Linked DNA regions of Homo sapiens. The protein of the gene in region 1 interacts with the protein of each later gene in a pairwise test. Each region holds a gene or a part of one and is shown on either strand. Other genes may lie near its edges.

What was found.
Region 2: the proteins of FDFT1 (region 1) and SHPRH interact in a two-hybrid assay, tested with the Homo sapiens proteins (one large-scale study listed by BioGRID and IntAct).

What each region holds. Positions count from the first base shown.
Region 1 is NC_000008.11:11,809,006-11,812,828, forward strand, and holds part of FDFT1 (squalene synthase), read left to right. Parts: intron 1-135; exon of another isoform or gene 136-485; intron 486-661; coding exon 662-845; intron 846-3,823. UniProt on the Homo sapiens protein: Catalyzes the condensation of 2 farnesyl pyrophosphate (FPP) moieties to form squalene. Proceeds in two distinct steps.
Region 2 is NC_000006.12:145,940,181-145,944,003, reverse strand, and holds part of SHPRH (E3 ubiquitin-protein ligase SHPRH), read left to right. Parts: intron 1-201; coding exon 202-861; intron 862-2,129; coding exon 2,130-2,381; intron 2,382-2,980; coding exon of another isoform or gene 2,981-3,058; exon of another isoform or gene 3,059-3,080; intron 3,081-3,202; coding exon 3,203-3,281; intron 3,282-3,823. UniProt on the Homo sapiens protein: E3 ubiquitin-protein ligase involved in DNA repair.

The DNA.
Region 1 (3,823 bases):
TTATCCAGAACATAGCCCGGCCCTACGTGTTTACTTTAGAAAGCCCTTCCAGGCTCTTTGCCATCTAGTAGAGTCCCTGCGGGCCCAGCCTTTCAGAGAAGAGGGGGGAGGGGGTGATGTTTATTAACTTTTTTTAGTCTTGGCAGCTGAACCTGCCTGTGAGCAGGTCGTGTATTTCTCGGCTTCCCTTATCCAACTTTGCATTTCTATTTCTAGCATATTGGGTTGATTCTTTTGAAGCTGCCTCTGTGCACATTACACCCATGAACTTAGACCAGTTGCCTTTATGTATGATCGTATTTATACTGAGAAGTTACTGTGTTTTTTGACTTTCTTTTCTATTTGCTACATATTAGTTCGGTCTAAACGTTTGGTCTTCTGGTCTCCATAGTTCTACATTGGTTAAATGCAACTCACTTCTGGGAGTAGTGGTGACATTCAACTAGTAGGCTTTTTAATAAACTACAGAAGTTCATTACTCTCATGTAAGGAAGGAAAACTAATGTAACTTTCGTTAAGTATGAAAAGCGTTGGATATCCTTATAGTTCTTTAGAGTTAAGGGTGAGATGGGTTTAGAAAGTGGCCAGGCACAAGTTATTTTAAAATAAAAAATCTTTGGCTGTTTGTTCCAATATATTAATAGTTTTCCCTTTTTTACAGCAACGCAGTGTGCATATTTTATCTGGTTCTCCGAGCTCTGGACACACTGGAAGATGACATGACCATCAGTGTGGAAAAGAAGGTCCCGCTGTTACACAACTTTCACTCTTTCCTTTACCAACCAGACTGGCGGTTCATGGAGAGCAAGGAGAAGGATCGCCAGGTGCTGGAGGACTTCCCAACGGTGAGTGGGGTTACGCATCTTGTCTACGGACTGTTGTGTTCATAATTGCTAACGTGGTTGTCCGGTAGCCTCCATACATGTGGAGAAAGGTTAAATAAGCATTCTGAGGGCAGCATAATGTGAGGGTTAAAAACTCCGGTAGCCAAGACTCTGAAGCCAGGCTGCCTGGGTTGGAATCTCAAATCTCCCACTTACTAAACTGTTGGTTACTTACAAAGACTCTCTGTGCCTCAGTTTCTTCATCTGTAAAATAGGGGTAATAATAACACCTACCTCATGGTATTCTGAGGATTCAAAGAATTAACGTAGGTAATGCTCTTAGAATGTTAGCTACTGCTGTTATTATCAGTATTGGAAGTCCAGTGTTTCTTCCTGTGGGAAGACGCAGTCAAATTTTAGTGTTGTGAAAGATTCTCAGGCTAGCTCACAAAAGCCTGCCGACTGTATGATGCAGCCTACCTGTAACACTGCTGGCCTCTTGACTACCCGGAGCCTGGTAGCATGGGACTGCTGCTCACGATGGGCAGCAGCCTGGCATGGGGGCGGTGTCTGTTGGCAGCTAGGGCGAGCCTCTGCCACTTCACCTGTGATCCTGGGCAAGTTCCTTATCTGCTTTGTGTCTCCGTCTCCTCGTTTGTAAAGTTAGAGCTGAGAGGATTAATTTCGCACATATAAAGTACTTAGTGCCTGGTACAGGGTAAGTATTCTGTAAGTATTAGCTATTTGGTCTATTTTGTTGGAGTAAAGTGGGTTATAGTTAAAATCCTAAGATTTTTAAAGTCCCTCAAGTTCATGTGGACATCTGCCTAGGTCCTACTATCCTAGAATTCGCATGTCTTATCACACAAATAACTGATTCTTCCATATCTTATAAATAAAGGTTTGATTTAGCAAAGTCACATGTTGTGTAATAGCTCGAAGAAGCCCTTTTTGTCCACAGTTGCCAGAGCTTTTGGAGAACAGTCCTTATGTTATTGAAACAAACCTAATCTGTAGCTGAGTTGGGAGGGAGCTAAGTGGACAGAGAGTCCTCCACCCAAACAAAAGAATCTTTGATTCTTGGGCATAATGGGAGCAATATTTAAAAAAAAAAAAAAAAAAAAAAAAAGGAATGTTTGGGGAAGACTCTTGCGGTGCAAAGGCTGTTTCAGATTGCTGAGATCAGACCTTAAGTACCAAAGCCCAAATATAGTACAACATAATACAAATGAGAAGAAAATAGCTGAAGAATAATTCGAGTTTATACAGTACAATTCAAGAGAAGAAAGAAAATTTATGACGACTAGCTGGGTGAGAATTAGAACTGTAACCCTGGGAAGGTCCTGGTGATTTGACTCTCACAGGACACCTGATGACCAGAGGATGGGTTTCCTTTGATGGGAAATCTGTGGCGATTCATTGATGGGCCTCTGAATTCTGCTGAAGCAGAGGAAGTAGTAATACCCCATTTATAATGGAAGTGCATTCTCACTTAAAAACAACTAATATTATTCTAGCTGGACCTAGCCTCTAGAAACAGCCAAATTACATTTGACTTGAGTGGATTCATAATAATTAAAAAATTTCTGGGGCATGGGATAAATGTGTTAGGTATTGCTAAGTCAAGGCAGCCCTATCCCCTCAGCAGAAGTGAGGGAATATGAAAGTGTGTGAATGCTAACATAATTTTGGGGAATATCGCCGTCAGATTTCCAGATGATATTCCAACATGTTTGTGAAACTTCAGTGTCTTCCTGTGTTCATACAGTGTTCCAGTGGAAAAATAATGCTTAGTTCTGGAAGGTTTCAGATGTGAACACTGAACTCATCGTTTTCTTTTTTGGGTAGTAGAGTTAGAGATTCCATCCTCTTGAAAGCACAGTTGCCCCGGGAAGAGTAAAAGGGAGCAGAAGGCGTAAGCCAGGCACGGCTGTTTTCACTGTTGTTCACCTTTTGTATCCTTACGAATATGAAGATGTACTAAGTTGTGTGTTTTGCGTGCATATATAATTTTAAGCTACTTGAGTTGTAGGTCCCTCCAGTCTGTGATTCAGTTTGAGATGGGACTGTATGGGAATTAACAGTGCCTTGTCTTCTTAAGGAGTGATTTGTGTATGTGCTGATATAGCTCAGTATGTCTTTGAAACCAGTTGTCTGGGGCTAGGCCTGCAATCAGCTTTTGGCTAAGAGGTCCCAGGATGGAACAAGTAGTGTGAAAGAGGACTGATACCTTGGCCTCACACACAGTACTGCTCTTAGACTGGGGCAAGTGAAACTCCTCACTTCAGAGTGCCCCATTCTAGGCCCCCTCACTCCCAAAGGGGTGAGGGATCACTGGGGCCATGGGAATGTGCTTGTTCAGCTCTCGTGGGCTCTCCTTCTGTACCACGTTCTGGACATCTGGAGTTCCTTGCCCCAAATCCCTGAGCCCACGTCTGCGTCCGCACAGTCTATTTCCTAAGGTCAGTCCATCTCCTCCAGGTGGGAACGTGCCACCATTGACTGTGCCCTTGGGCCTGAGTGATGGCCAAGGGCTGTGTTGGGGAGTGTTGTGGATGGATCCTGGCACCGAGGGCTGGGATATCCTCTCAAATGAATGTGAGGTGCCTCCCAGTGCTGGAGAGAGCGGGATTCAGGAAGCAGTGGAAGGGAAGAGCCTGGGATATGGGGATCAGCTGTCTGTGCCCTGCTGCATTCTGGAATAAAACTCTGAGGGACTAAGAATTCTAAATTCAAACCTGAATCAACCAGGTTGTTACAAAGATAAGTTTGTCAGTGCAGGAGGATACAATATATTTTACTTAAGTTACTAGCTCGATTGATCATTTTTAAATTTTTAGCTACATATAGTATGTGGGCCTCCATTTGTCCTCTTATCCCAGGCCTTGCAGAATTTAGGAATAAGCCTCAATACAGTGTTCTAACCCAGTGACTTCCGCCTCGATGTACAGTAGATTGAACCTGATCCTTTATACTTTAGTGATCATTAGTTGATACCA
Region 2 (3,823 bases), on another chromosome or scaffold:
GCCTTCCTTTTGTTTTGAGATGAAGTGAGGGTCCTTACAGAGGGCAGATTGGAAGCCACTTATCAGGAGTGATTCTCCTCAGGGAAAAGGGTAGCAAAGACTGGCTGCTACATAATTATATGAAGTACTTACATAAAGTCAGGAGTTTAATTTCAGAAATGCAACTAGTTGCAATCAATTAATTAAATATTTTTTTCATAGGCAGTAGGGAGTCCAAGGAAAATTCAGAAAGAAACTAGAAAATCAGGGAACAAGGACACAGATTCTGAATACTTGCCATCAGACACCTCTGATGATGATGATGATCCTTACTATTATTATTATAAGTCCAGGAGAAATCGCAGTAAATTGAGGAAAAAGCTTGTTCCATCCACAAAAAAAGGAAAAAGTCAACCATTTATCAATCCCGATTCACAAGGTCACTGTCCAGCTACTAGCGACTCTGGAATAACTGATGTTGCTATGTCTAAAAGTACATGTATCTCTGAATTCAACCAAGAACATGAAACAGAGGACTGTGCTGAATCTCTAAATCATGCTGATAGTGATGTACCACCTTCTAATACCATGAGTCCCTTTAACACCTCTGATTACCGCTTTGAGTGTATATGTGGTGAACTTGATCAGATAGATCGTAAGCCTCGTGTTCAATGCCTGAAGTGTCACCTGTGGCAACATGCAAAGTGTGTGAATTATGATGAGAAAAATCTGAAGATCAAGCCTTTTTACTGCCCCCACTGCCTTGTTGCAATGGAACCAGTGTCAACAAGAGCAACTCTGATCATCTCTCCAAGTTCCATCTGTCACCAGTGGGTGGATGAGATCAACAGGCATGTGAGGTCGTCATCTCTTCGAGTCTTGGTAAGGCCACTTGGACTAAAGAGGGAGAGGAAAATGTAAAGTTTTGCTTCTTCATGATAGTTTCCTAATCTTTGTTTCTTTGTGGTTTATCCTCAAAACTAACTGAATGATTTAATAGTAATGTTAAATCAAAGCTTAAAGAAAAAAATTGAGACTAAGAACTAGAACAGTACAATGTTATTCTTTTCTAACATCAGAATTTCACCAATTAAAGCATTTTGAGTATAAAGATGTGGAAGCTTTTTAAAAATTCTTGAGTATGTAAATGAGAAATTCTTGGTATAAGCATTTATAGTCTTCAGAGAGAAATGCAATCCAAAGGCAGCACTGTGTAATAGGAGCTACTTATCTGATCTGCCATCTCTTAGCTCCAAAATCATCCTCTAAAGCTTCAGTTACCTCAGCTGTAAAATAAGAATTTACTTATACAGCAAATCTTTATTGACCACTTATTATGTGCCAGGAACTGCTGAGTTTTAAAAATAGTATCCAGTCATTTGTGAAGATATGATTTTGTCAAGTACTGGGCACATAGTAATGTTATTGTTTCCTAATATTAATACCCTTCACTAATTTCATTCTTCCTTCTTTCCATGCAAGTGTTACTGAAGGTTTTTGTATTTCATCCACTTTACATAGGCATGGAGAATACTGTAATAAGCAAAACAATTTTTGCTGTTAAGAAGCTCTATTCTGTGTGGGTAGGCAAAGCTTTGAGTCTTAGTTCCATCAGTTTTGAGCAAGTCACTTTATTTTTCTTATGTGTGGGATAGGAATATTAACAACCACCAACAGAATTATTGTTGAAGTTTGGAGATAATGCTTAGCACAGTATCTGAAACATAAAAGGCATTTCATAAATAATAGCTCTTATTGTTCTACTTTTTCATACCATTGTGCTTTCACATATGCTATTGATTCCATCCTCCTACCTACATATAGCCCTTTTCTCTTTTTGCCACCTATGAGAACCTTTAAGATATACCTCAGGTTTTAACTCCTCTGTGATTTTACCTTCTCCGCTACAGAATTGGTCTTTCCACTGTGATGCTGTCATGTTCACATTTATTACAGTTTGTTGCACATCAGTTATGTAATTCATCTTCCACACTAAAACATGTCTTTCTCCAAACAGGTATGGGATCTGTCTCATAGCATGAATGCTCCTAAGAAAATAGAGAGGACTTAGTAAGGGTATAAATGAGTGAATATTTCATTGCCTTTAGTGAGCCTTTTTGCAATAACTGCCTGTATTGATTATTTCCTAGGTATATCAAGGAGTGAAGAAAGATGGCTTTTTACAACCTCATTTTTTGGCAGAACAGGATATAGTTATCATTACCTATGATGTACTGCGTTCAGAATTAAATTATGTCGATATCCCACATAGCAATAGTGAGGATGGGCGTCGCCTACGGAACCAGAAGCGCTATATGGCTATCCCGAGCCCCCTGGTAGCTGTGGAGTGGTGGAGGATCTGCCTTGATGAAGCTCAGATGGTTGAGTGTCCCACAGTAAAAGTGAGAGTTTCTGCAAAATCTTTTGAGGGCTGGGGAAGAAGGGTGAAAAGGAATTAGGGGACCTTGAGTAGTTTAATAGTTTAAGCATAGTTAACCTGTAGTACTGATATTGGTCAAAAGTTTGTTATTAAACACTACTTGTGCTTTTCTCTTGTGCTTTGAACTACATAACCCTTTGAAATTAGTTCTGTACTCTGTGACTCATTGCTCTATATGAAATATATATTTTTCAGTAAGATGTCTGTTTATATATGATGCAGATCAAAGTAAACTGTGTTTAGGAACTTCTGTAAGCATTTCTGCTAACTGGGAGCTCATCGTGTAGCCTCTGATAGCTTTGAACCAAAGTTGACTTTGACAGTCTTTTAAATCAGAGGCCAAATGGTAACAGAAAATACTACTTTAGAGGACAGAATTTTGATTCAGCCTTTGAATGTCATATGTCTTTATTCTGTTGTCTTTGGCCAGTCTGTAACCTGAACTGAATGTATGAATCATGTCTGTTAGTATATCTGGAGGATAGAGTGATGCAGGGCATGGATCAGTTATTCAGGGGGCTTTTTCATTTTGTACGTATTTGAACTACCCCTCTGTTTTAGGGGACTGCGTGGCAGCCTCCCACTAATGAGAACCACTGTACTGGAAGATGGTCCATTGAATATGACATTCAACATTGAGTGTGATAACTGTTAAATAAAAGTAGGTACATCTCACCAGAAGTGTAGCTTTTAATGGGCTGTTTTTCATGAGTATGCCTGACTTCTGTGTTCTTTCTGTGGTTTTCTGGATTTCATTTTTATTTCATTTTTCCCTCTCATCAGGCTGCAGAAATGGCCCAGCGTTTGAGTGGGATTAATCGATGGTGTATCAGTGGCACTCCAGTACAGAGAGGATTAGAGGGTAATGTATGGTTTCCTCACATATTGCATGCATTTGAAAAGCTTCATTTTTTAGAGAGAAAAGTATTGTTATGCTTAACCTTTGCTGCAGTCCCTATTGAAGTGATGATTCATGTCTTTATAGTTGACTCCTAATAGTTTCAAGCATTTATCTTTTTAAATGGGACTCAGGTGATTTTTCTGTTTATGTATATGAGGACCGATATATATTAAGAGGTCTCATTGCCTTAAGTTGAACAATTATTGTACCTGCCTAAACAGCATAGATATAGGTCTGAATTAAAATTAGAGTTCCAAAGTCATAGGTAGAAAACAAAGAATCTAACCCAAAAAGAAACAAAGGGTGGGGGGGGTGGGGAGAGGCAGAAAAAGAGAGAAAGGGAATTAATTTCAATTAACTGTGTCTATGAAAATGGAGACTATAATTTTTATTGTGTGAACCCAGGAATACTAGGGCCATAATTTTAGTAATTATATAAGTTATTAGTAGTCTTATAATGTCACACTATATGTATATACCGTTATTGTTTCTACCATTCCTTT